Linked DNA regions of Homo sapiens: regions 2, 3, 4 and 5 are each linked to region 1. Evidence: fine-mapped expression QTL. A gene starts in region 1. Each other region holds a variant in brackets. All regions are shown on one strand. Distances are from middle to middle.

What was found.
Region 2: its variant is fine-mapped to the expression of ESPNL in whole blood (TOPMed, PIP above 0.99).
Region 3: its variant is fine-mapped to the expression of ESPNL in esophagus muscle (GTEx, PIP above 0.99). The same link has a PIP of 0.9 or more in adrenal gland, aorta, atrial appendage, breast, esophagus mucosa and fibroblasts.
Region 4: its variant is fine-mapped to the expression of ESPNL in whole blood (TOPMed, PIP 0.93).
Region 5: its variant is fine-mapped to the expression of ESPNL in subcutaneous fat (GTEx, PIP above 0.99). The same link has a PIP of 0.9 or more in liver and lung.

The regions. Positions count from the first base shown.
Region 1 is chr2:238,097,317-238,103,270 of GRCh38, reverse strand. ESPNL (espin like) reads right to left here and starts at 2,931. Exons shown (of 9, transcript NM_194312.4): 1 at 2,558-2,931; 2 at 1,140-1,330. The coding sequence starts at 2,851. It overlaps SCLY (selenocysteine lyase), which reads right to left. Exons shown (of 12, transcript NM_016510.7): 12 at 3,858-5,069. The coding sequence ends at 4,916. It overlaps UBE2F-SCLY (UBE2F-SCLY readthrough (NMD candidate)), which reads right to left. Exons shown (of 19, transcript NR_037904.1): 19 at 3,858-5,069. RefSeq lists enhancers at 554-723, 4,489-4,783, 4,418-5,086, 5,087-5,754, 5,755-5,954.
Region 2 is chr2:238,059,358-238,065,311 of GRCh38, reverse strand. SCLY (selenocysteine lyase) reads right to left here and starts at 4,311. Exons shown (of 12, transcript NM_016510.7): 1 at 4,169-4,311; 2 at 843-955. The coding sequence starts at 4,257. UBE2F-SCLY (UBE2F-SCLY readthrough (NMD candidate)) reads right to left here. Exons shown (of 19, transcript NR_037904.1): 9 at 843-955. RefSeq lists silencers at 4,102-4,551, 4,692-4,901. The variant A/C (reference allele first, on the strand shown) is at 2,826.
Region 3 is chr2:238,124,726-238,130,679 of GRCh38, reverse strand. It overlaps ESPNL (espin like), which reads right to left. Exons shown (of 9, transcript NM_194312.4): 6 at 5,296-5,410; 7 at 2,946-3,058; 8 at 1,776-1,973; 9 at 1-552. Among named protein-coding and RNA genes, the nearest start is that of KLHL30, 11 kb to the left of the region's middle. RefSeq lists an enhancer at 1-316 and a silencer at 3,216-3,275. The variant G/A (reference allele first, on the strand shown) is at 3,051.
Region 4 is chr2:238,037,628-238,043,581 of GRCh38, reverse strand. It overlaps UBE2F (ubiquitin conjugating enzyme E2 F (putative)), which reads right to left. Exons shown (of 10, transcript NM_080678.3): 10 at 800-2,294. The coding sequence ends at 2,244. The region is part of intron 7 of UBE2F-SCLY (UBE2F-SCLY readthrough (NMD candidate)); the gene reads right to left. Among named protein-coding and RNA genes, the nearest start is that of SCLY, 20 kb to the left of the region's middle. RefSeq lists a silencer at 682-874 and an enhancer at 3,300-3,800. The variant C/T (reference allele first, on the strand shown) is at 3,301.
Region 5 is chr2:238,138,613-238,144,566 of GRCh38, reverse strand. It overlaps KLHL30 (kelch like family member 30), which reads right to left and starts at 5,899. Exons shown (of 8, transcript NM_198582.4): 1 at 5,809-5,899; 2 at 3,039-3,882; 3 at 1,636-1,768. The coding sequence starts at 3,812. RefSeq lists an enhancer at 3,130-3,643. The variant G/A (reference allele first, on the strand shown) is at 3,175.

The DNA.
Region 1 (5,954 bases):
AAATTTTTTTGTAGAGATGGAGGTCTCGCTACATTGCCCAGGCCAGTCTTGAATTCCTGGGCTCAAGCAATCCTCCAGCCCCAGCCTCCCAAGATGCTGGGATTACAGGCATGAGCCACTGTGCTCGGCCCAAGTCTCCCAGTTTTCAATGGTGGAAACTTCTTTAAAAGCCGTGTGGGTCTGAGAGAGACTGTGGCCAGCCAAGGCTGAGGGTGGTGTGGACGCTCTGGAGAAAAGCCACAGAAGCGAATCCCAAAGGCCTTTGCCAAGCAGTCCAGGATGGGAACACCCGGGAATGAGAACCCGATTCCACAAGCAAGCTGTCGGGGCTTGTCCTGGAGCTAAGGGGGTGTGGGGGACTGAGGCCTCTGGGGCAGCGACAGGAAAATGAGATGCTGCCTCGAAAAGAGAAGAGCCGTGGTCAGAGGTAGGTGGGTCCCTGGGGGACAGGAAGGTTCGCCCTCAGCCAAGACAGTAGGAGGCAGAGGGCCTGTTCCTATGACAACAGTGACCTTTGTAAGCAGGGCGAGGACTGGAGGAGCTTCCAGGTGGGGAGGGAGGCCATCTGCCTTACTGGCTGTCCTGACCCTGGTCCTTCCTCGTTGCCCATCCACTAATTCCAGCAGGGGGCACAGGGCCCCAGAGACGATGAGGCCAGCGCCCGGCTCTAGGGGTCCCAGCACAGGGGTGGGGCAGTGCAGAGGCAGCTCCAGCCTCTGTGTCCCCAAGTCCACTAGACAGTCCCCACTCCTGTCAGGTGATGGGAGGGTGCCCTCACAGGTTGCCAGCTGCCCACGTCCCCAGCTGTTTTAGGTCCCGAGATGCCCCCAGGTGGGGCCAGAGCTGCCCTGGGCATCACAGCAGCATCTTGCCATCGTCACCGCCCCCAGCCACTCTCCAAGCTGAAGCACTGGCCTGTGTCCCCTTGGGCCCTGGCATGGCACTGCCACTGCCTGGCCTGTGGGTAGAGGCCTCATTGCCCTTGGCTCCTGCCAGCTCACCCCCACAGTGACAGCATGCCCGCCTGCAGGATTCACCTCAAAGGCCACCAGCCTGTCCTCTTGGCCCTCCATGGTGCAGCCTCCCCTTGGCCAGCTCGCCCCAGGCTGCCCCCCCAGGCGGGACTTTGGGCTCCTTACCTGCCATGCGCGGCTGTCAGGAGCTTGAGGCAGGTCAGGTCCCCACTGACGGCAGCGTGGTGCAGCGGCCGGGCTCCCTCCCGGGTCTCTAGCGTGGCCGAGTGGCCCTCGTGGAGCAGCCACTCCACCAGCACTGGGTGTCCAAAACGGGCGGCCAGGTGCAGCGGGGAGACGCCCGAGGCATCTTGGTCCTACCAAGCCCCGGGTAGGTCAGTGAGTGGGGGGTAGGCCGTGAGGTCAGAGCCAGCTGCCGGAGGTGGGCCCTGGGCGAGGGCTCACACTGCCTGCAACCCAGTGAAGGGGCTTCCAGCTCCTTCCTCCTTCCCTCCGTTTCTGCCTGCAACATGGAGGGAGGTGCTCCCTGCTGGGACTGAGGTGAGAGGAGGGCCAGGACTCAGGTCCAGGTCTTGGGAGGCCACCTCTGGCAACCCTGCCCTCTCCTGGGCCCGTCCCCAGTGTGGAGAAGGCCCTTTCCCACGCAGTCGGGTGCCCGCAGACACCTGCCCACTCTGCTCATGGTCAGAAAGGCTTCCCAGGACACCTACCTCTGGCTGGTCCCCTGCCCCAGTGCCCTCCCGCTGGCCACAGGGTCCCGGGGCCAGGGAGCGTTCCTACCACAGGTGTCAGGGGTCCAGCAGACCTGGGCCTTCTCCAAGGGCCCTGTCAGAATGGATCCCCAGGCAGGCACAGCTCCCGCCTGCTGCCCTTGGGTTTGGCGGAAGGGCCGACAGGAACAGGATGCTGGGCCGGGACTCTCAGGTGCTCTGGCGAGCCAGGTGCTGGGGAACCTTCCCGCTCCGCAGTCTAAGCAGGCCCCACCGGCCCCCACCTCAACTCTGACCTCTGGGCGGCGGCGTTCTAAGGCCGGTCAGTCCTGCTCACCCTCAGCCCTGAAAGCTCCACAGGGCTGAGCGACAGCTCTAAGGGCCTCGCCTGCACAAAGGGGACTGGGCAGGCAGGATAGGGGAGGGGGGCCCAGTAGAAACGATCCGGACAAGACGATCACCATCAGCAGCCCTAACTCCCGTCCCCCAGGGCTAGGCTCCCAGCTCTCAAGCCCAAGTTCCCACAGTGCTTCTGTAAGGATCCCTTTCTAGACCCTTTGGGAGGCAGGCCCTGTGGACCAGGCCTGATCAGAGACAGGGGTCCTGATATCTGGCAAGACCCCCACTGGCAACGCCCAGCTTCCTGGCAGGGAAGGTGATAAGAAAATTTAGGAGGTGTTCTTGGCTCTCAAGCCTTTGTGCTCTGAGAGGCGTGGGGCAGAGACGGTAACCACTGACTGAGTCCCCAAGAGAAACAAAGGGCCCAGGGCCATGGAGCCCGGGGTGGCCAGTACTCTGATCCTCCGTGGCTCACACCTCCCTGGTTCCACCCCAGCCAGCTTCGTGGAGCCAGGCTGCCCCATCCCCGCTCACCTGCAGACCGCAGCCCCCCTCGCGGACCAGCCAGCACAGCTCGGCCAGGCTGCCCGTGGCAGCGGCGTCATGCGCTGGGGTGGCCCCGTTGTGGGCCCGCTGGTTGCCGGGCAGCTGGGCCCGCTGCACCAAGAACTTGACGCAGTCCAGGTGGCCAGCCCGGGTGGCGTGGTGAACCAGGCCGGCCCCCAGAGCATCGGTGATGCCCGGGCCCAGGGCGCCAGCCTCCAGCAGCCGCTCCAACGTCGCCACATCCCCATCCTTGGCGGCCACGAGTGCCCGCTGCTTCTCCATCCTCTGGCCCGGGCTCTCAGTGGCGACTCATGCACAGGCTGGGGCTTCCTGTTTCAGACGTGGATGAAGCTGCCGGCTCTGGTTACCCGATAAGCTGCCACAGGGCAGATGGGAGGCGGTGGGGTGGGGTCGGGTGGGGGGACAGGCCTTGAGGACCTGCCCAAGCCACTCCCACAGTGTGAGGGTGCCAGGTGCCTGGAGCTGGGAGGATGGAGTACAGGGCACAGGGAAAGGCCCACACCAGGCTAGGTCAGGGCTGGGTATGGCCAGCAGAGAAAGGAGGCTGGCCCTGAGGCTGCTCAGATCTGTCCAGATGGCAGGAACTTCATCTGTGGAGCGAGGGCTGAGGATACACGCCACTGAGCTTCTCACAGGAGCCCCGAGTGGCCTGGGAGACAGTTCCCCCAACTCTCACAGAAGGGCAGACCCCCAGCCGCCACCACAGTGTGTCTGAAGTAAAGGGTGCCCAGTAGGTCTACATGTTTGGCTGTGTTGACACCCACAGAGCTGAGCGCCCCGCCTCTGGGTCCCGGCCCTCGGCCCTGGAGGCTCCTAGGAATCTCTGGGGACACAGTGGCTCCACGGGGCCTGCAATGGGCTCAGGACCCTGACTTGGGTGTGTCCAGGCCTCTGAGGCGAGAAGGTGTCAGCCCCTGCCTCGGCCCCCTCTCCAACTACACGGACCAAGTCTCTGGGCTGCAGCCCCAAGGGCCCAAGTACATTTAACCCCTTTCCAGATTGTTCTGGACAATCCATAGTTCTTCTTTAGGGAAGTCAGGACCACCACAGCCTCTTCCTGGCAGCAATGGGAAGCTGCAGATGGGGGACCCATTACATTTGTAGGGGCTTCCGGAGACACAGCCTCAAGCTGGATTTCTGGGCTAACGCATCATCACACAATGGTGACCTGGGGGCTGCTGCACCCCTGGCTTCCCCCCGACAGGCTCTGTCAGATGACTTTGTGCCCAAGCGCAGTGCCCACTAGAGAAACCACAGGATCCCCAAGTCGGGCACTGAAATCTTTTATTCGTTAATTTAGTTTCTGGCAAGTGTTTCCTCAAAATCATCAAGTAGTTCCTTGAACCGTAAAACCACACATTAAAAATGTTATTCCACTGAAAATGACTCCTATGCAAATATCGACATGTGATGTGTGTCCAAATGCCAGAGCATTTTGAGAAAAGAATCCTCTGCAAATAAAATTAAGGTAAAAGCTGAGTCAGGGATGATCCGATTCCCACCCCAGGAATGACCTGGAGCTGCACCAACTCAGCGAGGTTGGAGCTGAAACCCTGAGTTAATAATGATCAAAAGGGACAAGACAGGAAGGCCTGGGGACCGTGGACAGGGAAGTGCGCAGCCCTGATTGCCAGTGGGCGGAACAGGGTCAGGCTCGGGGAAGCAGGAGGGGTGGTGGGCGGTGGGCGCTGAGCAGAGCAGGCCTGGCCGAGGCTGGGGGCCACTGTGCACTGAGGCCAGAGGAGCAGGGTGGTGGGGGCAGCTTTGGAAAGGGACTAAAAAGGGCCTGAGAAGAGACCACTCTGGAAAGGTGCATGTAGAGGCCATGATCAAAACAAAAAAATCAAGTTTCCTACGTTCATGATAGCATTTGGCTGACAATGAGTTATAAATACTTGGATTCTATCTTCCAGATAAAAACACCTTCCAGGAAAGGGCACTCACAACAGGCGTGCCCAGTTCCCAGTGGGGAGGGTGGATAAAGCTAAGTGTTTCCGCTTCACCACTGGAGGACGGTTCTATGTGGGCGGTCCCATGTGGGCGGTCCCATGTGGGCGGTCCCATGTGGGCGGTCCTATGTGGGCGGTCCTATGTGGGCGGTCCCATGTGGGCAGTCCTATGCGGCGTTGGTGTCCTGGGCCCTGTGAGCTCTGCAGGGGTCCAGGGAAGGAAACTGGGGGTGCACACTCGCTGGCACTCCAGGACAAAATGCAGAGGGGGCATGAGACAGTCATCCTGGCACAGCCCTCAGGAGGGAACTGGAGGGACAACCCTGTGCCCTGCCACGGGCTTCCCAGAAGCGGGGTGGGGAAGGCGGCCCCAGTGCTAGGCCTGGTCCTCCAGCTGCGCCACGGCCTGCTTCAGGTCCTGCACGACGAGGTCCACCTCGGCCCTGGTGGTGCTGCGGCCCACGCTGAGCCGGAGCGCGTTCCTGGCCACGTCGAAGGGGACACCGTAGCTCAGCAGCACTGGGGACGGCCTGGGGAGGGCGAGACCGAGCTGCAGCTGCTGCTGAGGGCACATGGAAGAGACACAGCCCCCCCTGCTCTGGACCACTCCCCTAGTGGGGCTCTGCCCACCCGGATGTGCGCCTGCCTCGCCTGGCATCCACCTCCTGCTAAACTCCCAGACCAAGCACACCCCTAAGATCACCCACATCAAGGTGTGGCTCAAAGTCGCCCCCGTTCTCCCTGCAGAGTTCTCTTGCACTTGGCACTCCCAGGTGACACTGCCTCCCTCTCGCACTGAGCTCTGGGGCCAGGGGCTCTCCTGTCCTTGAGGGGTCTGAGGTCCTGGAGAACACGGATGCCGACACAGACAGTGCCTTACCCATGCGGCCCACCTGAGCCACTTGGTAACTTCATGGCACCTAGCATGGGGCTTTGCAGACACTAGGGACCCAGTCAGTATCTAGCCATGAACAGATGACTGCGTGGGGACATCCTGAAGCAAGGCTGTTGGAGGCTCGAGATGTGGGCTCTGTCAAGGGGCCTGACCTCATCACACCCGGGTCCCTTTCCTCCCCTGCCCCTCCTGCAGCAGGGCACTGTCCCCCCAACAAAGGGCCCCATCCTGCCCCTCCTTTTCCCTGGAGCCAGGCCCACCACTGTCTCGCTCCAGGTGCTCCTGCACAATCCCTCTGCCCTGACCTTGATGGCCACGTGCTGCTGGCTACAGTTCCGCTCTCTCCCCAGAACCCTGAGTGTTCCTCCTGCGTCCACTCCGACCTCCCACAGGGGCCTCACGTTTTCAGCAGACCAGACCCAGAACCACTTCTCCCCTGCTGCCAGCAGGCCGCTGCTCGGGCACCCCACGCCCTCTACCCCACAGTCTCCGCCAGGCAGCCCACCCGCTCACCCGGGCC
Region 2 (5,954 bases), 38 kb after region 1:
GAAGATTAGCCAGAATAGACCAACAAATAAGCCAACAAATAAGTTAATGAATGACTAGTATCTGAGCTGAAGGGCTTTGTTATTAAGTTGCCGTGAAACGTTTAATAAGCAAATGGATAGGAGAACGTATTAAACCTGTAAATTGTACGCAAGTGTTACTAAATCGTATGGCCTGGCAATATTCTGTTTGAAGTTAATTTAGTTCATCATCATCCACAGTTAACACAGTTTATCTTAATTATCTCTCATAAACATGAAATAAGAAAGGTAAGACTTTAGCTTGCTCATCTGTCTGAAAAACAGAATGTAACTCTGTCATATAACTGACTTGAAGCAAATTCTTCTCCAAAACCTCCAATTTAATGGTCTACATTACAATAAGAATAAATTGGAAACAAATAAGAATATTCATAACTAAAGTAATTAATGAAAAAGTAATTTTCATCTTTAAAAAGGGCCAGGATTATATGTTATCCTGATGACCTAAAAGACATATTTTGCAAATTCTGTAAGGATTGACTGAGCTAGATCTGTGAAGTGCTCCACAGGTACTGACTGCTACTTCAAGGAACTCTCAGTAGACACCTTTCTCATCTGGGAAAGGGTGACAGGACAGCATGTTAAAGATTAAACATTAAAGGTTAAAGATTACAGTATCGACAAGGCTCAGCTTACAAATGGGGCCTTCCCAGAAAAGAAACTATCAAAAATTACAGCTCAAGAATTGCAGCTAACAGAAACCTATTCAAAACAAAGCCGTCACGTGTGGGTGTGCAATTTCTCTAAGAGCGCCCCATCCCCATTATCTCCCATCAGTGAACACGTGCATCTTCTAGAATTACCTGCTGAATACGGGCTGCTGGGATTTCCCCAGGCTTCCCACATGGCCTTGGTCATGGCCTGGATAACTTCTGGCTCCAGGGGAGTCGTTGCATTATAGTCCATATAAACTTTCCTGAAGGAAAGAAAGCAAAGACACCCATTAAGGAAAAGGAGATGGCATATGGGAAATATGGCTGCTCTGTGTCTATCCCATCGGCAGGAGCAAATAATGTCAAGGGCATGGTGATCCTCTGCATAAGCACTGCAGGCATCCACAAGCTGCACTTGGGAATCTACAGATCTACACTACTTATGGAAAATGCATGCATAATTTCTAAGACTCTAGTTTTTGTCAATTTCTTTTATAATTGATAGGACTTGGATTTTCATTTCGGTTTTCAAAATTTCTTTCTAGCAAGGCACAGTGGATTGTGCCTGTAGTCCAGCCATGTGGGAGGCTGAGGCGGAATGACCTCTTGAGGCCAGAAGTTTGAGGCTGCAGTGAGCTATGATGGTGCCTATGAATAGCCACTGCACTCCAGCCCGGGCAACACAGCCAGACCCAGTCTCTAATAACAAACACTCTTTCTACCCCTTGGTAGGATTAATGGTCTGTTGGGCCCAGATTACCCATCTGACTGCTGTAAAGGGCAGATCACTGGCCTCTTCCTTATGGAAGGAGGGGAACAGCTGCACATTCCCCAAGGGAACTTTCCTGTCTGCTGTTTTAACTTCATCAGAGGTTCGCCTTATTTCCCCACACTCATTTTTGCGATGGCCTGTGGGGCTCCTAGTGACCTGGGCTTCTCCCTGGGGCAGGTGAACTTTGGCCCCAGACCTTGCACTTTCAGTTTCTTTGCCCAGAAAGACTACATGCCCTGCCCCCACCTTACTTTTTTAGGTCTTTGTTCCAACTTAGTCCTCTTGTGAGACCCCCTGCCCTGCAGCTCTGCTTAAAACTACAGCTGGCTGGGCGCGGTGGCTCACGCCTATAATCCCAGCACTTTGGGAGGTCAAGGCAGGTGGATCACTTGAGGTTAGGAGTTTGAGACCAGCCTGGCCAACATGGTGAAACTCCATCTCTACTAAAAATGCAAACATTAGCCCTACTAGGGAGGCTGGGGCAGAAGAATTGCTTGAACCCAGGAGGCAGAGGTTGCTGTGAGCCGAGATCATATCACTGCACTCTAGCCTGGGCAACAGAGTGAGAGTCCGTCTCAAAAAAAAAAAAAACAACAACAAAAAAAACAAACCCACAAAACTGCAGCCACCTATGTCCCTACCTCCCCAGCCTCCAGGTCCCCTTCCCGCCTTCCTTTCTGGGCAGCATCATCATCTGACATACCAGACTTGTTCCCTTACTGTCTACCTTAATAGAGTAACAGAAGTATGGCTCCATGGGCATGGGGGCTCTGTTTTTCTCACTGCCCTGTCACCAATGTTGAAGCCCATGGTTGCCACACAACAGGGGCCTGATTTTTATAAGATGACAAAATAAATGCCACAGAAAGTACAAATTCCCTGAAAGATCCCTCACTAAGTAAAATTTATCTGTATATCTTTTTACTAATATCCAAAACCTTCGAAAGCCTTTAGAAAAATGTGTAGTAGTAGTCCTGCCTGATATTAATTTATCTAGTTTTTAAATAAACAGTGCTTACACCAATCCACATGAAAACCCAGATACAATGACTAACTGTGGCTGTTAAGCCACTGAGTGTGGACAGAATGTGCATTAGTTGAAATGAAGCATCTTTTCTGTTCAAAATCACTCAACAGGCTGTGCCCTGTGGCTCACGCCTGTAATCCCGGCACTTTGGGAGGCCAAGGCGGGCAGATCACCTGAGGTCAGGAGTTCAAGGTCAGCCTGGCCAACACGGCGAAACCCCATCTCTACTAAAAATACAATAAAATTAGCTGGACGTGGTGGCACGTGCCTGTAATCCCAGCTACTTGGGAGGCTGAGACAGGAGAATCGTTTGAACCCGGGCAGTGGATGTTGC[A/C]GTGAGCCAAGACTGCACCACTGCACTCCAGCCTGGGTGACAGAGTGAGACTCCATCTCAATTAAAAAAAAAAAAAAAAATCACTCAATAGGTACAAGGCTTTGACAAGTTTGACTCGCCATCCTTTACCACTCTGGTACTAGTATTAATAGTCCTAGGAATCCCCCAGCCCGGCTTGACTTTGCATGTGCCCTTATATCTGTTTTTCTTTCCTATAAATAAGCATCCAAAGTACCTTAGGCTAGCTAGTGTTTGTTGAGCGACTGTAGCTCTTCAATCTGCTGCTGGGCTGAACAAATCTATTTTGTTCAGATTAATACTTTACACATTCCTTTGCTTCATTATTTGCTGCTTCCTTAAAATGCTATCAGTATTGGATGAGCAGGCTCAACTTTGTTAGCTTCATAACCAAAAAATAAAAAATCTTGGGAATCTCGCTCCACTGATTCCCTAGGGGATATTTTCCCAGATCCCTTCACTTTGTTCCAACCAAGGTAGAATGCCAAATGTGTGTGCTTTAGGCCTGGACCCCCTCATATTCTAAGCATGGGTAGCGAATGAGCTCACAAAAAGGAAAAAGAGGGGTCTGGAAAGAAGACACACAAACCAGAAAATGCATACCCCTGCCTCCTGCTCTTCTCGGACTTAACTAGTATGGATACCACGTGCTTCGGGTCTCCGCGCTTCTCAGCGGTGGCCATCCCGTTTCCTGCAGCTGGGCCAGCAGTCTGGGAGAACCCTTGATTCCCTTTCACCTGCCCCAGTGCACCAGCTTCCTACCAACGCATCCGTTTCTGGGCGCACACCACATCTCTCTCCTAGGTTGTTACAAGATCCCCAACTGGCTTCCCGGCTTCCTCTCGTCCCATGCCTACCCGCGCCCCTACTTTCTAGGAAGCAGCCAGAAGGACTCCTTCAAAACACTTAAATTGCATCGCCCCGTGATCAACTTCCGAGGCCCCATAAGGCTCCGAATGAACCCCAAAGTTCTTCCCGGGCTCAGGGGCTCTGCCGGTTCACCTCCGGCAAGTCCCCTGCCCTTCGCATCTGCTGTGCCCTCTTCCTGGCAGGCTCTGCTTCCCCAGAACCTGCAAACCTCACCCCTGGAAGTCACTCGGGTTTCGGCCCCAAAGTCACCTCTCCGTGGGCCCTTGCGGGGCCACAGCTCGCACCCGCTCCTCCTTGAAGCTCGCATCCCTGACTTAGGCCGACCTCGCGGACATCCCCGCGCGGGACGCCCCACGCGAGAGCGGCCACAGGCCGGGAGCCCCCTTCGTCCTCCCGCGCGGGACAATCGGCGACAGGCGCCGGCCGCTCCCCAGCCCTGCCCTAAAGGCGCGCACCTCTCCGGCGAGTTGTGTTTCCCGCAGCCGCTGGGCTGACTCGCCGCGGGTGCCGGCGCATCCCTCCCCGGCGCCACGGCCGCCTCCATCCCCGCCCCACTGCTGCCGGGCATCCAGCCTCCTTCCCGCGGAGCGCTACGGGCCCAGAGCGCCGGGGAGGAGGCGGGGCCGCGACGCCCGGGCGCGTCCGGATTGGCTGAGCGAAGCACCCCAGCCAATCCACCCGCTTCAGAGGGCCGCCGAGCCCCCAGCGGGGAGGCGAGGCTGCGCTGGGTCAGGTGACGGGTGGGGGCGGGGCTTAGCGCGTCACAGAGCTTCCCGGGAACCGGGCGCTAGAAGCCGCGTCTCCTGGGCCGGCGGATCCCCGCACTTTCACTTCCGGGGGAGCCCCGTGACCTTTGCTGTCTGCGGCAGGGCCGCCATCGGGCCGCGGCCGGTTAGTCGGCGTAAGAGCAGGCGGGGCCCGAGCTGGACCTGAGGAGCAGAGGCGGCTGGGCAGTCCTGCGGGTGCCTCCCTCTAGCCGCATGAGCGCGGGACCGTGCACTCCGGGAGAGCCGGGGCCGCGCGGCCTTGTTCCCCGCGAACCCTCGAGGGGAAGTGCCGGGGCCGCGGCAGCAGGGCCAGGGCCCCGGGGGTCTCCCGCAGGCCACCCTGGACAGTGATGAGCAGGTCCGCTGGACCTGCGCGTCCGTTAGTCGGAGCGGCTCCATAGGGGACCTGGATGGCGTGAAGTTAAGAGTCACGCATCGAGGATGGACTTGAGGGGATCTGGAGTAGAGGATGGGAGGGCATTGAGAAAATAGGGCCAGAGATGAGGGACTCTAAGTGGGCGTGGAAACGCAGGAAAGATTAATTCAAGATCTGTTTAGGCCGTTAAATAGGAATTGGGGCATGAGGGACAGGAAGGAAGCAAGGATTAGACAAGTGACTGGGAAGATGTTAGTGCCTTTATCTGGGTAAGAGGGAAGACGGGAGGGGGAAAGATGATGGGTTTAGCTTTGGACATGTTGAGTTGTCTGTGAGACAGTCACAAGTGTAAACATCCACCAATGGTTGGTGTCCCGCCAACCATTAAGAAAAGTCAGTTGAGAAAGTGGTAGAAATGAGCAAAAATCCTCACGAAGCCATCCTACCGTCACTTTTTTTGTTGTTTTTTGTTTTTTTGGCATAATAGTGTCTACCTTTAATTGAGCCTTGAACTATGCCAGGCAGTGTTCTAGGTATTTTTCGTGTGTTCACTAATTTAATCTTGATGATTAACCCAGTCTGGTAGGTATTTATGTATGAGGAATCCAAGATACAGAAAGGCATCTTGCCCAAGTTCACACGAGTAGTGGCTGGAGCCAAAATTCGGTTTCAAGCATGCTTTGCCAAGAGGTTGAATTTTAATTGGCTTTTCATGGGCTTTCTCTATTTTGTGTCCTGTTGGGGTCCAGAATAACTTGGCTTTTCCAGCACAGCAAATCTGCAAATTTCTGGACTCATTCTCTCTCATTCTTCCCTATAAACGCAGCTCATTTCTTGCCAAATGCAGCCAATAGCAAAGGGCCCACCAACATTTAAGAAGCAAATGGATGCACAGGAGCATGAGAACAGTCAAAAGAGGAGGAAAGGAAAGGGAATTGAGAAGGAATGTCAAAAAAGTCAAGAAGACACATAATAGTGTAAAGTGTGGCTGAGAGGCAATCCGAAGTCTACTGTGCGTAACAATTAGGAGGCACTGATAAACTAGCGAGAGAAGTCTCAGTGATGGGAGAGGCATGGAAGTTAGAATGCAAAGATGGG
Region 3 (5,954 bases), 27 kb before region 1:
CAGCGTCCGCACAGACACCCCCCACTCCTGGATCTGGCGCTGGGCCTCGCTCCGAGGGGGGCTGGCCGAGGCCTCCCTGCAGGTGTCCTGCAGGGGCCGGGTGGATGGCTTCTCATCCCCCTGTACTAGCCCATGCACGCCCTTCAGCAGCAGGGACAGGCTGCGTACCAGGCGGGAGATGTGGCTGCACCAGAAGGGCAGGGGCTGCACCCCGGGGGCCACCTCTGAGGCCTCCGCAGACCCTGCGGGCTCAGCCGCTGGGATTGAGGCCTCCTCAACCTCCAGTCCGGGCGCCCGGGGCAGGAAGTGGCTGTTGACCGTGATGCTGACCAGGGGCTCGGGCAGCAGGGCCTGCAGCTCAGCCGCCAACCGGCCCAGCTCACTCTCATACTCCTGACAGCGGCGCCGAAGCTGCAGGTCTGCAATCTGCTTCTCCAGGTAGACCAGGTCATCCTCTGTCAGCAGCTCCCCAAAGGGCCCCAGGATGGCCTGATGAGTCTGTGAGTACCTCCAGGCCGCCTGCTCCGTGGGGCCTGAGCTCCCACCATTGTCCTGGGCACAGGAAGGGCAGGGTGAGCAGGGTGAGCCCACCCACCCACCATCAGCCCACCTAGCTTCCAAGTCCCTGAGTTCTCAGTATCTCTGCAGAGCCTCTGGTCCTGCCCCAAGGTAAGACTTTAAAGGGCTTCCCAGCTAGGGCAGAAGCCCCTGACCTGCTCTGCCCGTCTTGCTCTGCTCTCAACCCTGTGGCTTTCAGCCCCTACGGCTCCCAGCCCAACAGGCAAGGACAGGCTGGGCCCTCAGACAGGGCTGTCCCACAGTCCTGAGACGATGGAGACAGGCTGTATTCCAGCAGCCAGGAGCCACCTGTGGCTACAGAAACGACAGGTGGCTGGTGCGACGGAGGGGCAGGACTTTTACTTTCCTTAAATTGTAATGAATTTCAGTGGCTGCATGTGGCTGGCAGGATTGCGCTGGACACAGCGCTGGGCCGGGGGCACAGAACTCAATCATCTTGACAAAATCATAGGACTCTGAGGACATAATTCCTGAACTCCTGTCTGCACAGCAGCCCGGGGAGCCTGTTAAAATCCAAGGCACATCACAGCCCTTCTCTGCTCAGATTCTCAGTGGCTCCCCACGGCCTCACAGAGGTGCAATAATCCCAGCCAGGTTCCTCTCCAACCTCAGGCGCCCACTCCATGCCAGGGCGCCTCCTCCTGCTCCTCCCCCGGCCAGCCCGGCCTCAGGACCCTTGCACTGGCTGTTCCCTCTGCCTAGGAGGTGCTTGCCCCAAATTCCCACAGGGCTCCCCCTCTCTTCCCTCTGGCCCCTGCTCAAGGCCACGTCCCCAGAGGGGGCCCCCTAAGCACCCATATATCATAGTCCCCCAACTGCTTTGCTTTCTCCACAGCAGTGGGAATCGCACCCCACACACCTGCCGGCACCTGCCCATGGGCCACCGTCTTCCCTGCTAGACGCTGCGCCCAGGAAGGCCTAGAACAACGCTTGGCACAGGCAGGCATGTGCCACAAATCCGCCAAGTGGAAGGATACGTGGGACCCATGCCTCCAGAGCAGGTGAAGGGGCTCTGCTCAGAGTCCTCTGGTCAGGTTCACTTCATCCTCCGGCGGAAGCAGCAGCTGAGGCCACAGAGGAGAGGGGCCCCTGGGTCTTGGATTCAGTTCTGGGCTTCGGGCGCCCTGACTTCCACTTCCACCTACCTGGAAAAGGCCCCGCCCCGCCCACTGGTCCCGCCCCTGCCGGGGGCCTACCTGGGCCTCTGCGGAGCTCTCTGCGCCCAGGCGCGCCTGCAGCTTCCGCACCATCACCTGCCGCTTCCACTCTGGGATGGGCTGGCCGCGCTCATCCCGCGTGGGCACCAGCCCGTCGATGTCGCCTGAGGGCAGCCCATCCAGCTGTAGTGCGGCCAGGCCATCTGAGGTGTCCCCCGCCAGCGCCGTCTCTGTCCCCTGTGCAGAAGGGGGTGGGTCACACAGGCCCGAAGGGGACCCAGGCCCTGAGTGGAGGGAAGATCCGAGAGGACGTGGGGGGTTGGCTCCGCCCAGGGCACGCTAACAGGGCGCCCTGAGAGGAGGGACAGTGGGGGCCACGGACAGCACCCCACCCCCTCATCCCCAGCTTAAGAGTGAGGCCTCAGAGGGGAGGGACTGGAGGGGGCGGGGTAAGATGTGTGTGAGGGGATTGTCGGCAGAGAAATGAAACCAGAGGTCCCTCCCCGTCCCCTGTGCAAGCCCAGCAGATGCTCGCGGAGCGCACCGTATCCCTGGGCAAACTTGCTCTGGGCACAGCTACATAGACAAAGCCTGGCAGCCAATCCTGTGCCGCGGAGGGCTTGTCAGAGCCTTCAATGTGCCGTGCGCGCTCCAGCTCTCCACGACGGGCAGCAGCGCCACGTGGCGTTTCCCAGACTCCCACCGAACACCTCAATGGTTGAGAATCTGCAGTACCACGCAGGGAAAGTCTGGGCTGGCTTTCTAAGGGCCCGGCGCCCAGGAAAGGGAGAGTAAGGGGGAGCAGGACCCTTCTGCTGGTCTGGGCTGGCCGAGGCCCTGAGGAGGAGGACGGTGGCAGCGGGGCCCTGCCCATGGATGGCTGCTGCGATCTCCGCACTCCAAGCGGGCACGGAGCACCCCTGAGCTCAGAGGTCAGGGAGAGGGGCCTGGGCCACTGCAGCCCTCTGGGATAACAGAGAAGGGTCCCCGTGTTTCTGTGGTGGGGGGGACAGCTGCCGTCGCCCTGACATTCCTGTCTCTTCAGAACTCAGGGTGTTCTCGAGAGCAGCGGAGTGACGCAGGCAGCCTGGCATCCACCCTTCAGGAAAGGCCTGGCTGTGCTGGGGGCTTCTCTGGGCCCCTAAGAGGATGGGAATGGAGGCTGGCTAGGGGCCCCGGGAGACAGGAATGCAGGGGTGGAGGACGAACCTCGGGGTCAGCCGTGGCACTGGTGATGATCCTCGGAGGGGCCGGGCTGGTCATCTGCTCCCTGGGAAGAGGCTGGTCAGGATGGCCAGGCCAGGCCGGGCTGAG[G/A]GACATGGCTGCCAAGAAGAAGAAGGGTGTTGCAGAAAGGGCAAGGGCTGGGGAGCAGAGACCCAGAGCCTCGGGGATCCGGCCCTGGGGGCAGAGCTGACCTCCTGAACGATCTGCGAGCTGGGAGCTGACCCCAGCCCACCCTGCCCCAGAACACCTCGGGGGCCCCACTGGACCTTCTCTGGGGAGTCAGTGGGGCCCGCCCCCGCCTGGTCGATGGGAGAGCCTGCGGCACACCGCTGGGCCACGCCGCGGCCCCTCCTGCAGCAGGGGAGGAGCTGGGAAGGGCTTGAGGCCGCCCCTAACGCAGCTCTGCAGGCCCCAAAGCTGGTTCCCTTGCTGCCTGCAATGCTCCCTGCCCCGATGAAAACACACACTTCAGGGTCAACCTCGAGTGAAGAACACGTCTGCATCACAGCCAGGCAGACACGCACAGACACAATCACACACAGACATGCACAGACACAATCACATACACACAACACAGACACAATCACACAGACACAGACACAATCACATCACATACAGACACAGACACAATCATACACACAGACACAATTATACACACAGATACAATCACAGAAACACACACAGAACAGACACACAAACACAATCACACACAGATACACAATCACACACAGATAGACACAATCACACACATACACACAGACACACAATAACAGTGACACACACAATCACAGACACACAGACACGATCATACACACACAATCACACAATCACACAGACATACAGACACAATCACACACGCAGACACAATCACACACAGATACAGTCACACACAGAGAAACACACAGACACAGAACAGACATACACAAACACAATCACACAGAATCACACACAGATACACAGACACAATCACAGATACACACAGACACAATCATACGCAGAGACACACAGACACAAGCATACACAGACACAATCACATACACACAATCACACAGACACAATCACAGACACAATCACACAGAAACACAGAACAGACACACAGACACGGACACAATCACACACAGATACACACAGACACAATCACAGACACACACAAACACAATCACACAGATACACACAGGCACAATCACACACAGATGCATAGACACAATCACACACAGAAACAGACAGAACAGACACACAATCACACAGATACACACAATCACATAGACACAATCACACACTGACACAGACACACAAACACAAACACACATACACAGGCATAATCATACAGAGACACACAATCACAAAGACACACACAGACACAATCACACACACAATCACATACAGACACACAGACACAATCACACACAGATACACAATCATGCACAGAAACACAAACACAATACACAGATGTACAGAACACACAATCACCATACACATACATACAATACAGACACAGACACAATCACAGAGAGACACAATCACAGACACGATCACACACTCGAACACAATCACACACAGATGCACACAGACACAATCACACAGACACAGACACAATCAATCACAGAGACACACAATCACATAGACATAGTCACACACAGACACACATGAACAATCACACACATACACACAGACATAATCACACAGACACACAGACACAGACACAACATACACAGATACACACAGACACAATCACACACAGACACAATCACACACAGAGAAGGGTCCCCGTATCTATGTGTATCACACACAGAACACACAGACACAATCACACACAGAAGCACACTCCCACATGTGAGTACAGGGCCGCAGCAGGGCCCGTGGAGGAAGCTCGCCCTCACTACCTGTGGCACCTGTTGATAATTCCATTCCACTCCACTCCACTCCACTCCACTCCACTCCACTCCACTCCAAGCTGGTCACAGACCCCTAATGGTGGTGGCCCACAGCGTGAGGACTGTTGCTTGCCCTGCTAGCCCATGCATGCGAGGTGTGCTGGGGTCTGAGGGACAGCAGCCCATCCACAAGGGGCCTGGGCCCAACCGGCCCGTCTCCCCGCTTTTACCCCTGGATAAGTTGCTGTAGCTGTAAGTGCCCACCACGGAAAATGCTAATCCTCATGTTTCCAAAGCACCAAAGACAGTCAAGGAAACCTGGAAGCAACTGGGGAGGGAGGGTGATGGGGTGCCCGGCTGCCCGCAGACTTGCCCACCGGTCCAGGACCTCGGAGGGGAGGCCAGTGGCACCCTCTCCCAGGCCCATGCCCTGGGTGGCCCACTTGGGGCTGTGCACTCACGGCTGGGGTTCCCTGGCCCTGGGCCTCCTCTTCTTCCATCCTCCAGGGAGCGCCTCGTGGCCAACAGTGGAGGTGGGGGGAACGGTGGTGGTGGGGGCGTCATCAGCAGGGGCACCTGTGGGTGAATGGGCCTGGTCAGTGGGGGACCCCCGTGGGCTCTTCCCTGCTCACCTAGACAGGGGCAGGGGCACCCAGTGGACGAGCCTTGGGGAGCCTGTGCATCTGAGAAGGGCTGGGACAGGTAAGGAGGTGGCAGGAGAGGGGCAGGTCCTTGATCAGGGTTCTGTCCCAGGGTCATCTCCTGCCTGAGTGCCATCACTTCCTGGCACCCCACCTTGGTTCCCCGCCCACTTTCACCTCTATTGGGTGGGCCACCCCCATCTCAAAGCTCAGCTTCCAGGCTCCCTCTGGAGGCAGCTGAGCTCTGGGGCTCCGGGTACTGGGTTAGGGCCTGGTTTCCAGCTGTGCCCAGCGCCCTGTGGTCTCACAAAGACATGTGCACACATATGCACACACACGCATGTATGCTCTCCTGCACACACATGCATGTACTCTCCTGCACACATGCACGTACACTCTCCTGCACACACACGCACGTACTCTCCTGCACACACGCATGTACACTCTCCTGCACACACATGCATGTACTCTCCTGCACA
Region 4 (5,954 bases), 60 kb after region 1:
TGGCCTGTGAAAGAGGGAGGGGAATGCTAAGAATTCAAAAAGTCTGGAAGGAAACTGGGTCCCACAGTCACCCAACAGATCCCAAGGGCCCCACTGGCCAAGCACCCAGGACAACAGCTGCTGCTTACTGCGATGGGCTGCATCTGAGTGTGCTCCTAAGATGGGGTGTGTGTGCGCAACATATCTCTGGGGGATTTCCACTAGACAGAATGGGATGATTCAGTTATCTGGACATTTTGAAAGAATTGCTTAATCCCTGATAATGAGCAAAGTGTTTTTCTACTGTGCAGATACTTTGATGTCAGAATAACTGATATTACCACTTTCAGTGTGGTCCAGAGGGCACACTGTCTTTCATGTACACTGCATAAACGTTTCCACTGGACAGCAGGCGTTTCTCCCACAGAAGCGCTCTTCTGAAAAGTCCTGCATCAACACCTGCACCACCAGCTGGGGAACTCCAGGGAGCCCGAACAACTACTATGGGATGTGCCCTGACTTGGGCCTGGGACTGGCACCAAGCAGAGAACCTCATTTCCTGGGTCAGAGGGGGCAGGAATTAGCTGCTGGCCTCCTGCCCTGCCTAGAGAGGAAGCCTAGTGCTCAGCTGGCAAGTTCCTCTGACACTAGGCAGAGGAAAAGTGTGAAGCTGCAGTACCTCCCTCTCCCAGGCCCTGAGAGGTGGGGATTAATGTGTCTCCTGGACAAGCCCTGAGCTCCTGAGATGCCATCATTCTCTTTAACCAATCTCACCCTTCCTGCTCTGTGTGGCCTGTTAGCCAGGGGCCACCCTCAAGTCTAATGGGTGCAAAGAGGAAGCAAGGCCTACATTCCTCACCTGCTGGGTCTCCGTGACAGACTGATCTCACAATCAGAGATTCTATAAATTAAGAAAAACAAACTAAACCCAGTAGATGGCAGATGGGGGAATCCAGAGGTCTAAGGAAGCTGGCAGTTAAGTTTGAGAGTGTTAGGCAGGCAGCAAATGAAACTAGACAGACATTTATTTTGTGTTTGATTTCACTGGTTCAAATGTCTACATGCTGGAGTAAATCCACTTGCCTCTCTTCAGGGCTTTTCCTCTGCAGTATATTAACCTGGCCGAGGATGGCATATGCCACTGTTGACTCCTGGTCCTCCAAGGCCTAGGAGGCTCACCCCACCGGCAGGGCCTGGAGCCATAGCAAACTCAGAAGAAGGCCACAGGTACAGTCTCAGTGACATCAGACATTGGGCTGATTCCTGAGGCATCGCTCCTGTCTCCCAGGACAGCAGGGTCTGGCTCTCTGATAAGTAGCTACCAGGTCACAATCACATGACCACTGCAAAAGCATCAACCCCAGCTGGTCCAGGCTCCAGCCAGTTTCCTCTGGGCAGCATGTTAGAATGGGCTCCCTGCCTTTTTGTTTTGATCATCCAAATCTAGCTTCAAAGGGCTCCAAAATGTGCTCACCACATCCGGACCCGAAAGCAAGAGCTGATTTTTAAGAGTGAGATTCTCATTGCATTTGGACAAAATGAATAATGTGCCTTTCATATTTTCTTTGTATTTCTCTTCAATAGTTGCTTGACCCAACATCTTTCTGTCTGCTCTATACAATGAAAATACAAACTAAATGAGAATAGAAAAAATAATTAAAGCATTGAATTGTACAAATTACAAATCTGTTCCAAAATATACTTACATTAAATAAAATACGCATTTCAATAAGAGATCTACAGTGAATGACTCTATGCATTCTGGGAGGCTTCACAACATCTAGGCAGGGCCAACATTCGTGAAAGAAGCTAAGAGATTTTGCATCCAATCACAGTTTGTAGCGGGTATCTTATTGCCAATCTGCGAGTTACACTGAACACATCATTAGCATCGCTTGTGCAGAAAACCAATTTTGTTTGGGAAAAGGGAAAGCAAGCTCTGGCCTCAATTTTGAGTTCATTACAACTTCTTAAGAATTTCACCAACAGCCTATACAGTACAAGTTCAAAAAAGTAAACATGTTAAGGTAAGCAGACAACTCTTCAGAAGCCCAAACACATTTTCTTGCTGTATTTATGTTGAATTCTCCATCTACAATGAGCAGTCATGAAGATGGTCTTCTTCAGGGCAACATGGTCACAGGACTGGGGCAATCCAGGGGACTGAGAGGGAGCATGAGGACGGGAGAGGGGGCTACCTCTTGCTGTTTCATGTTAGAGACAAACTGTAACACAGTCCATGGGCCTGCAATCGTCCCCTTTTATCATCTGGCATAACGTTTGATGTAGTCATCCACTTTATTCCGGAAGTCCTCCTGTGGAGTAACAGCATTGGGGACAGAAAGAAGAACAGGAGGAGTGAGTGAGTGAGTGAAGCAGCGCTTCAGGGACAAGTCAGATCCACCAGCACCAAGGTCCCCTGTGGTCGCCAAGGTGGTAGAAGGACTGGGACCTTGCGGAGTCTGAGTGCCATTTCGCCACGACCTGGGTGCCTACTGCACGCAAGACACAGTGCTGGGTATGTTGAGGGGGGAGCACGTGGAAGGCCTGAGTGGAAGGGACCCTAAGGGGGTACCTATCCCTTCTCATTTTCCAGATGGGGAAAGTGGAGCCCAGAAAAGTGTGGTCGAGGTCACAAAGCCAAGACTCCTTTGGCCACAATGGATGTGAGCCACAGCTGCTGCTCTCAGGAAGACCCTTGTTTCTGGATTTGTCTTCCTAGAATGATTTCCCTGGATGCTGCTACCTACTTAAAATGTGCCTGCTCTTCACAGCCCATGTACAGGCCCCCATCTCTTCTGGGCAGGATGACCACCCTGCCCAGAAGAGAGCTGGGTGTGCCACAGAGCTCCATCCTCATGCATTGAAATGAAGGTGGACAGTGACCAAAGGCGGTGTGGACCTAGGAATCACCCCAGGCCAGTATGGGTGGAACAATCTTCTCGGATCTGGGCCACTGTCAGGTTTGTCCCTGGATCTGGTCTCCCCAAGGTTAGGAGTAAAATCCCATGGGACTGTATGAGCCGTAAGAATGACTTGGAGCTCTTAACCCTCTCACTCCTACAACACAGCTGCTGGGTCTCAGATGTCCCTGCAGGATCACACTGCTTCGGTCCCATCAATGCCATGCAGCCCCCACTGCCCAGGGAACACAGCACAGTTACCATAGTTCTTAGTGGGCATGAGCTCCATTTCCTTAGCTAAGCCTCAGTCCTCCTGTCTAAGCCTCAGTCTAACCTGTTTGCTGATTCCACTGCATAATCCCGACACCTGGCAATGTGCAGGGTATAACCTGGCACTCGATGTATACCTCGCTGCTGC[C/T]GCGATGCCCTCTTGCAGGGAGATCCTGCCTGGAGCATGGTCCTGGCCAGCTGGGCACCAGGTGCCTGCCCTCCTGCCACACTTTTAGTTAGCACAGCGACCCTTTCCAGGGCGGGCAAGTTCCCAATTTGAAGCTATGGATACGGTCCCATGACTTGCTCTGGTCTCAGGGTGAGAAAGTGGAGTGCTCTGAGTCTACCCAGGTGCCTCTGCCCTGCCAACCGCCCTATTTGTCTACAGGATGGCGTTTGGAGCCTCCCACATGGGCCTTTACCCCGCAACAAAGGGGGACTGTGCAGAAACCCTGCCTGCCCTTTTACAAAACCTTCTCAAGGCCATTTCCACAATCCCCAGAGCCAGACAATACTGGCAGCTCACAAGGACCCTGCAAAAGCTTACAGGATGTAAAATGAAGACCCCATAAATGCCCCCTGCCTCTCCATGTTCTGGAGGACAAAAGATGCCATGTACTCTTAGTCTCCCTGTTCACCTCAGCCAGCATAGAGCCCGGCGTCCATGCCTGCAGCAGGCTCCATGCTCCAGCAGGCCCCATGCTCCAGCCTCTGCTGCCTCCCTCCTCCTCTCCTACTGCAAGGGACACAAAGCACAGGGCCCAAGTGAAAACCACAGACTCTGGAGCCAGAAGGAGGTGGGTCCAAGTCCTGGGCTCTGCCTCCAATGGGCTACTCAATCATGGTGATTCTCAGCTTCTTGGCAGCTGTGTCCTCAGCAGCAAAACAGGGATCATGATGGTATCTGCCCCAAGGGGCTGTTGTGAGAAACAAGTGCACTCTGTGTCAAGTGCATGGAAGCGTGCCTGGCTCCTACTATTCCATTCCTCTGATGTGCACCAGTCATAATGGCCTCTTTTCTCTGCCCTGAGCTCCACAGCACATTCCTGCCTCAGGGCCTTTGCACTGCCAGCCAAGGTTTTCTGGAGCGCTCCTCTCTCACCACCCGGCCCTCTGTGGCCCCCTCTCCACCTCACATGCTGTGTTTGTTCACCTATTTTTTTAAATTTTAATTTTCATTATTATTATTTTTTTGAGATGGAGTTTCGCTCTTGCTGCCCAGGCAGGAGTGCAATGGCGTGATCTCAGTTCACTGCAACCTCCGCCTCCTGGGTTCAAGTGATTCTCCTGACTCAGCCTCCCAAGTAGGTGGAATTACAAGTGCCTGCCACCATGCCCGGCTAATTTTTTTATTTTTACTAGAGATGGGGTTTCACCATGTTGGCCAGGCTGGTCTCGAACTCCTGACCTCAGGTGATCTGCCTGCCTCAGCTTCCCAAAGTGCTGGGATTACAGGCGTGAGCCACGGTGTCTGGCCGTGTTTGTTCACCTATGCTCCGCCTCCTCCTGCCGGAATGTGTGCGCCACAGGGACAAGGACTGTCATTCCCACAGTCATCCTGAGCACTTTGCACCTCCCCTGGCACATAAGTGGTCACCAGCCAAATAAGTGATGAACGAGTGGACATAAGGATGCGGTGCTCACCAGCTGTGACTATGACTCCGCACGGAGACGGGGATGGGGCGGCACTGCTTAGGCTTCATGTGGAGGCACCACTGTTTGGAGATTTTAGGTCCATTTTACTGGGGCTAAAAGTGTACCAGTTGCAAAGTCCTATTTTATACAAATCAGGAATATGAAATCTTGTTTCATACAAAGAAAGGTAAAATGGAAGACATCTCTCCACCTGGAGCTGTGGGAGTACCCCTATTGCCATCACTTTCTATCTGATAAGGCTTGGTCCACAAGGGCTAGTCCTCGCCAACGACAGCAGACAGGAGTGCCGCCATGAATGCCTGCAAGGGGTGGGCCAAGGGGCACATTTGCCCAGGGCTTGTCAGCGCAGTACCAAGCCCAAGGCTTTACCAGACAACACAAGCCCATCAGGACCACCGACGGATGGCAGGGGTCGGGGACTGATTGCCCCCATGGGGAGCTGTGAGCACAGGGCTGCCTCACACCCCTGCTACTTCTCTTGAGGACCCCTGCTGCTCCAGCCCTCAGGACAGAGCTTGCCTCCTTGGCAGCACACCAGCCTCAGAAGATGGCCTGCTCTGCCCGCCTGGTTGCACTGCACCACTCCCCATGCCCACCATGCCTGCCACTTGTTTTGTGAGTCTGAGCAGGATGCATGCTGGGTGGCACTTCTCTTGCCTCCCTGTCGGAGGTGCTCCTGCCCACTCTTTGGGGCCATGGTCAGGCAGCACCTCCTGAGCTCAAGACTGTAGCGAGGACTTGGCAGGGCACATTTCAAATGCCCTACTTGGTCGCGGCACACAGTAGGTCTAACTAACATTAACAGAAGCCAAGGCGCTAAACATTCAGCACGATGTCTAGAACTAGCTAGAGGGGTTTTAGAACTGTGTTCAAAGCTACATCAGGTCGGGTGCAGTAATCACTTTGGGAGGCTAAGGCGGGTGGGTTGCTTGAGGCCAGGAGTTTGAGACCAGCATGGGCAACATGGTAAAACCCCCTCTCTACTACTAAGAATACAAAAATTAGCCCAGTGTGGTGGCGCATGCCCACAGTCCCAGCTACTCAGGAGGCTGAGGCACAAGAATTGCCTGAACCCGGGAGATAGAGGTTGCAGTGAGCCAAGACTGCACCACTGCACTCCAGCCTGGGTAACAGACTCTGTCTCAA
Region 5 (5,954 bases), 41 kb before region 1:
GTCTGGTCTGTCGGTTAGATGCGGTGTGGGTTAAGTGGCCTGATCTGTGGGTGTCACTAGTGGGTGATAACACCAACAGCATGCCTGCCTGCCTGCCTGCCTGCCTGCCTGCCTGCCTGCCTGCCTGCCTGCCTTCCTTCCTTCCTTCCTTCCTTCCTTCCTTCCTTCCTTCCTTCCTTCCTTCCTTCCTTCCTTCCGAGCACCCTCCCTGCCCTCCTGGCAGCCAGGCACATACAGGGGATCAGGACCTGCAGCAGGCAGAGCAGGTCCAAATCTCAGATGTGGTGCCCCAGCTGTGTGTCCGTGGGCAAACCCCAGCCTCAGTTTCCTTGTTGTAGAATGGGGATGACCCCAGCCTCCCGGGAGCTATGGGGACTTCACAGAACTGCTCAGCTGATGACAGCTGTTAGGATTATTGTTCCTAGGGTCGTGGGGCAGAGCAATGTGCCCAAGTCAGGCCTGCCTCTCGGAGCTACAAGAGGTAAACTGAGGCAAGAGATGAGAAAATGCTTTGGAAAATCAAGACAATAAATGTGGAAATGGTAAAGTCCTATAAATGGACATATTTTGGATGTTTGTGGAAGAGACACAGGCCTTTGGGATGTCCCCTAGGAAGACTCTGTTTACTATTTATGACCATTTTTGGGAGATGCGGAATTCCAGGCCTCCCTGGGAGCAGAGCCTGGCACTGTGGGCAGGCACCGTGTCCCCATGACTCATGGCTCTGTCACCCCAGGGTGGGGGTTGCCCAGCCGTCAACAGGCTCTTCCTGCCAGCGTCCCCACCTCCCGGCCAGGTCTGAGAGACAGCTGCTCCCTCCTGATGTCAGCCCCAAACCCCCTCTCTTCAGCCCCTGACCCGAACAGCTGGCCTCAGGCTTCCTGGAGCCTGCCAGCCGCTGACGCCAAGGAGATGGTTGGCGACCTGCCTGGTGGCCCCACACCAGCCAGCCTGCATCAGCCCTTTCCAGAGCACCTCTTGGGGCCAGCGCAGGGGGCCTCCAGAGCCGCTGCGGGGCCCCTCATGCCTCCTTTCCCGCCAAATGGCAGACCTGGCCTCAGTGCCCACTTCAGGGCTCCCTACAACTGTGTGAGGAAGCAGCAGGAGCCCATTTCACAGATGAGGAAGCTGAGGCTCAGAGAGGTGAGGTCACCTGTTTGAGGTCCGGGATTACAACCCCGTTTGGGCTGACCCAGAAGCTGAGTTCTCGCTCCTCCAGCTGCCTGCACCCCTTCACCCCCCACCCCACTCTCCCCTTGGGGTCTCGATTCCCTCGGCAGGTGCACTGAGCAGGGAGCATGGGGAGGAGGCAGCGGCCAGGCCGCCCACCCCACAGGGTGCAGTCTTGGCCGTGGAGGCCTGTACACCGGCTCCAGGGCCTAAAAGGGACCAGAGTCCTGGGCTCCGGCTGCAGGGAGAGGGAGCAGCAGTGCCCGCCAGCCTTCCCCCTCCCGGGGTACCTCGGGCTCCTCTGCAGCCCCCAGGTGAGGCCCACCCAGGCACGCCCCTCACAGGGGCCTCACACAGCTCCCGGTCCTCTGCGAGCCTCATGCGCTCCACCTGCAAGGAGGACACAGCGGCTCCCGCTGGGACAGAGAGACAGCAGGTGGGTCTGGACGCGGGAGGGGTACTCACTGGCCTTGCTGTTGTAGAAGGCAAAGTTCCCAAGGCCGGGGGTGGGCTCCTCACCTGCCTCCTCCTCCTCCAGCGCCTGCCCGCCCACCACCACCAGGACCTCCTCCAGCTTCTGCTGGAGGGCGAGTGGTGCCTGTGGGGTGGGAGGCCAGGGTCAGGGCAACAGCAATGTGTCCCCATGCCCTGAGCCCCCGCGTGTCCTGGGCAGGCCTCAGCATGTGAGTGCATGTGTGCTTGCATGTTGCTGGAGATGGCGTGTGCCCGAGTGCACAAGCTGCTCCCTCCTTGCACCATGTGCCTTTCAGGGGCATTCCTGGAGTTCCTGAACCATCTTCAGAACCGATCCCATAGCAGGTCCGCAGCGCCACGCATAAGCTTCTCCCTGCCCCTGCTCCCTGGGTGGCCTCCAGCAGGCGGCACGAGGGTGTCCCGGCTCAGTGGGAAATGCTGGCTGTCTTAGGAACGGCCGGTAAGCAGTCACTGCCTAGGTCTCCCAGGACCCCAGGCTCTCCCACAGCCATCCACCCTGGCCCCCCATATGGAACCCCCAGATCTCCCACTGCCAGGAATTAGAATACAAGGTGACCGTCCACGGGCAAGGCTCTGAAGCCAGCTCCAGCAGGAGGCCGGGCGCTCTGTGACTGGCTGGAATCCAGTGGGGACAGGGGTTAGGGTTTAGCCCACTACTCACTCCACCCTTGGCCTGAGGACCATCAGTCTGAGCCACTCTTTGTCCCCGGACTTGGCTCTAAAGGAGTGCCCCGAAGCAAGGCCCCTGAGCAGGGTGCCCGGCAGCTGACCGAACAGCCACTCCCAGACCTGTCATTCCATCATGACCTGCCATGCCTGCCAGGCACACTGCCAGCACAAACAGGAAGTAGCACCCCATAAAAGCTCAGGCGGACTGCCAGGCCTGTCTGTGCCTCCTTGCCTGTGCACAAGCTGCACCTCCTTCCTGGATGGTTTTCCCCTCTTTTCCTCCTTGTGAGCTCCTATCCCTCCTCTAAGGCCCAGCTCAGATGCTGCCTCCTCCAGAGAGCCCTCCTTGACTGCCAGCCCACCCAGAATGCGTCCTAGGCATGTATTTGGCCCTTCCACACTGCCTGAGGTCTGTTTCCAGGCTTGTCCCACTGAGCTGCAGGCTCCTTCAGGACAGGGCCAGATCTTACCACTTCCACATTCCCCTGCCCCTTGCACACAGGGCGTGACACACACAGAGGCATGATCTGCACTTGAGGGCTGAATAGTGATGTCCTCATGGGGAACTGGCCCAAAACAAGGAGCGTGGCAAGGTCAGAGTGCACCTTGGAATGTCCACTCCTTACTCTGTCCCTACTCAGGTGGGGTCTCTGGGGCTCTCCTCCCTGCTTCCCAGGGATGGGGCCTCCCAGCCGCTCACTCACCCCATCATGGCCCTGGGACAGGGCTGCCCGGCATGCCTCTGACTCCTGGATCAGGGGCTCTGAGGCCAGCAGTTGCTGCACGCAGGGCCTGGGCACGGCGTCCAGGTGCACTAGGCTGAGCAGCTCGGGCAGGTGG[G/A]CGGCCCGGGCCTGCGGGTCATGGCGCACCCAGCGCATCAGGGCCTCGAGTCGGCTTTGCTCCGGCTGTACCTGCAGCAGGTCGCCGGCCAGACAAGTGACCAGCCGCTCTCGGGGAAGCTGCAGGAACTCGTCCTCACGTGCCACAGCCTCAAAGTTCTCTCGCAGGAAGGCCCAGGCCTTGGCAGCCACGCCCAGCAGCCCTTGCTGCTCCCCGAACTCACAGATGCCCAGGCAGTTGGCGGCATCCAGTTGCTGCTGCAGGTAGCGGCCGCAGACCTTCTGCACCGAGGGGAAGTGCAGGCGCGCAGCCGTGCGTGTCAGCGCCTCCACGTTGCCCTGCGTGATGGTCAGCCGGCCTGTGTACACGAAGTCCACCAGTTGTCCCACCACGGCGGGCTCCACGTCCCGCAGCTCCACGCGCGCAGAGAAGCTCTCGGCGAAGTCACCCGCAAACATGGCATGGAAGTAGGGGCTGCTGAGCGCCAGGAGGCCGCGGTGGCATGGCAGCTCCCGGCCGCCCACCAGCAGTGTGACGTCGGCCAGCTTGGGCTGAGAGCGCAGGCGCTGCAGGCCATCCAGCATGTCCTGGGCATGCGAGGGCAGGTGGAAATCCAGGTCATCCACGTTCCGCACCATGACGCCGTGCCCAGGGGACCTCAGTAGTCCACCCACTCAAGGGAAGAAGTGCCTGGAGCCGCCCGAGCTCCTAGGAGAGAAGAGAGCAGGGTCAGCCAAGTGGGGATGGTCTCATCCTCCTGAGCAACCCACCCGGTCTGTCCATCAGCCCTTTCCACCCCTTGATAAACACAGGATGGGCATCGACCATATGCCAGTCACTTTACCCCCCATCTGCCTCAAGCCACCCCCAGAACCCTGCAAGGTAGGGCAGGTGTCATTCCCATTTGCAGTGAGGAAATTGAGGTTCAGAGAGGGTGGGAGACCTACCCATGGCCAGGCATTCAGGGCAGAACAGGGTTGGCAAAAGAACCCATGCCCTGGGTGTCATCTGCAACCCTGGGCTACACTGAGCCCACCCCCCAGGGACCCCGGAGACACCCAAACTCCCGGGAGGCGTCCTCCGTCCCAGATCCCACATTGCTGGGGAGGCCATTTGGGGGCTGCAGCAGCTCCTGCTCCCGCGGTGCTCCCAGGTGCCAGGCCACGTGCCAAGCATGCAGAGAAGCTGTGCATTCACCACTCAGCCCCACAACAGTCCTGGAGGGTGGGTGCAATCATTGCCTCTTTTACAGCTGGGGAGACTGAGGCACAGAAGGTTTCAGTCACTTGCCCAAGATCACACATTTAGGAAGTGGTGGAGCTGGAATTTGAACTCAGAGCTAGGCTTGGGGGCCCAGGCTCTGAACCCTGCATTCCACGTGGCCGGGTGGAGGCTGCTAAACAGAAACGGCCAGCCAAAGGCAGCGTTCTGGAGGGTTTCGCGTCACCACGCCCGCATGGTTGAAGTCAGCAAGGCCGCTTTCAGGCTCATGTAATTATGTGCATGTGGTTTATGTCCTTCTGGTATCGCACCCTAAGACAACCATCCCTAGGAGAGATCAAGTCTGTGCACAAGCCTTCGACCCGGGTCACCCCAGGGCGAAAGGCTGCGCAGCGGAGAGGCCGTTCGCCCGCTAGGGGGCGCCTCGCGGGGCCATCCCGGGCAGGAGAGGCGGCCGCGCGTCCACAGGTACAAAATGCGTGGGAACGCCACGCATGGAAATGACAAAGCTCAGCTGGAGAACCAGGAGGCCAAGAATCTGGCCCGGGCAGCCACGGTGCAGGTACAGGTGCAGGCGATGGGAGCTAGGGCTCCCCGACTTCCCGACCCCGGTGCCACCTCTTGACCCCAGAGCGGGGAAGCACCTGGGAGCCCACAGGGCCTCGCGGACCAACCCGGGCTCGCGCACAGGGCAGCTCACGTGGCCGGGGCCCCACACCCCAGCATCCCGGCCGGTACACGAAGTACCCACCCAACACTGCATGCATGGGGTTCCTGCCTGGCCCCTCCCCAGGAGGCGCTGGCCCCGGTGAAGGCGGCTCTGCCCTCCCTGGGCAGCCGGGAGATGAGCTGGGGCCTGAGTAGGTGACAGGGCTGTCCCTGGGCCACCGCCTGCAGGCCTCACATTCCCGTCATTGTTGTGCTCCCTTGGGCCAGCTGCTGCCGGGCGATGGGCAGGCACGCATGAGCGCCCCCACTTCCCCTGGGGGCCTCGGGGTGCCTGCTGACACCTGTCACCCTGCAGTCCCTGCATGGGTCGGGGCTTCCTGAGGGTCTCAGAGCCTCACCCCAGTGCCTGCCCAGGCCCGGAGTGAGGAAGCCGAGTGGGCAGGACAACAAAAGGCCTGAGCCCAGCCAGGCTGGCGACTGTGGCTGAGTGGCCCTGGCTGCCATCTGAGGGGTGGCCCAGCCTCCCCCTCCCACCTCTCCGGCTGGGACATGGAGGGAAACCTGTCTCCTGAGCCCCCACCCTGAGGAGCCTGGCTTGGCCGCTGGCAAGGGCCAGGGGGCGTCTCCAAAGCACCCTGCTGTGATCCCTGGCCTCGGGGGCCTAACCCACCCTCCCCGCTGCTCCTGGCTGGGTTCCCCCTGCCCTCTCTGCTGTCCCCTGCCCCAGAGCCCCCTGGATCCTACCTCTCACTCAGCCTGGACCTCGAAGCTGAGAACACAGACCCGAGAGAGCAGGACTGCCTAGCCGGCAGCCAGGGGACACGGAGGCCTGCAGGGCGGGGCAGGGCTGGTCTGGTGGCCACGTGGGGAGGGTATTTTTAGCCTCTGTC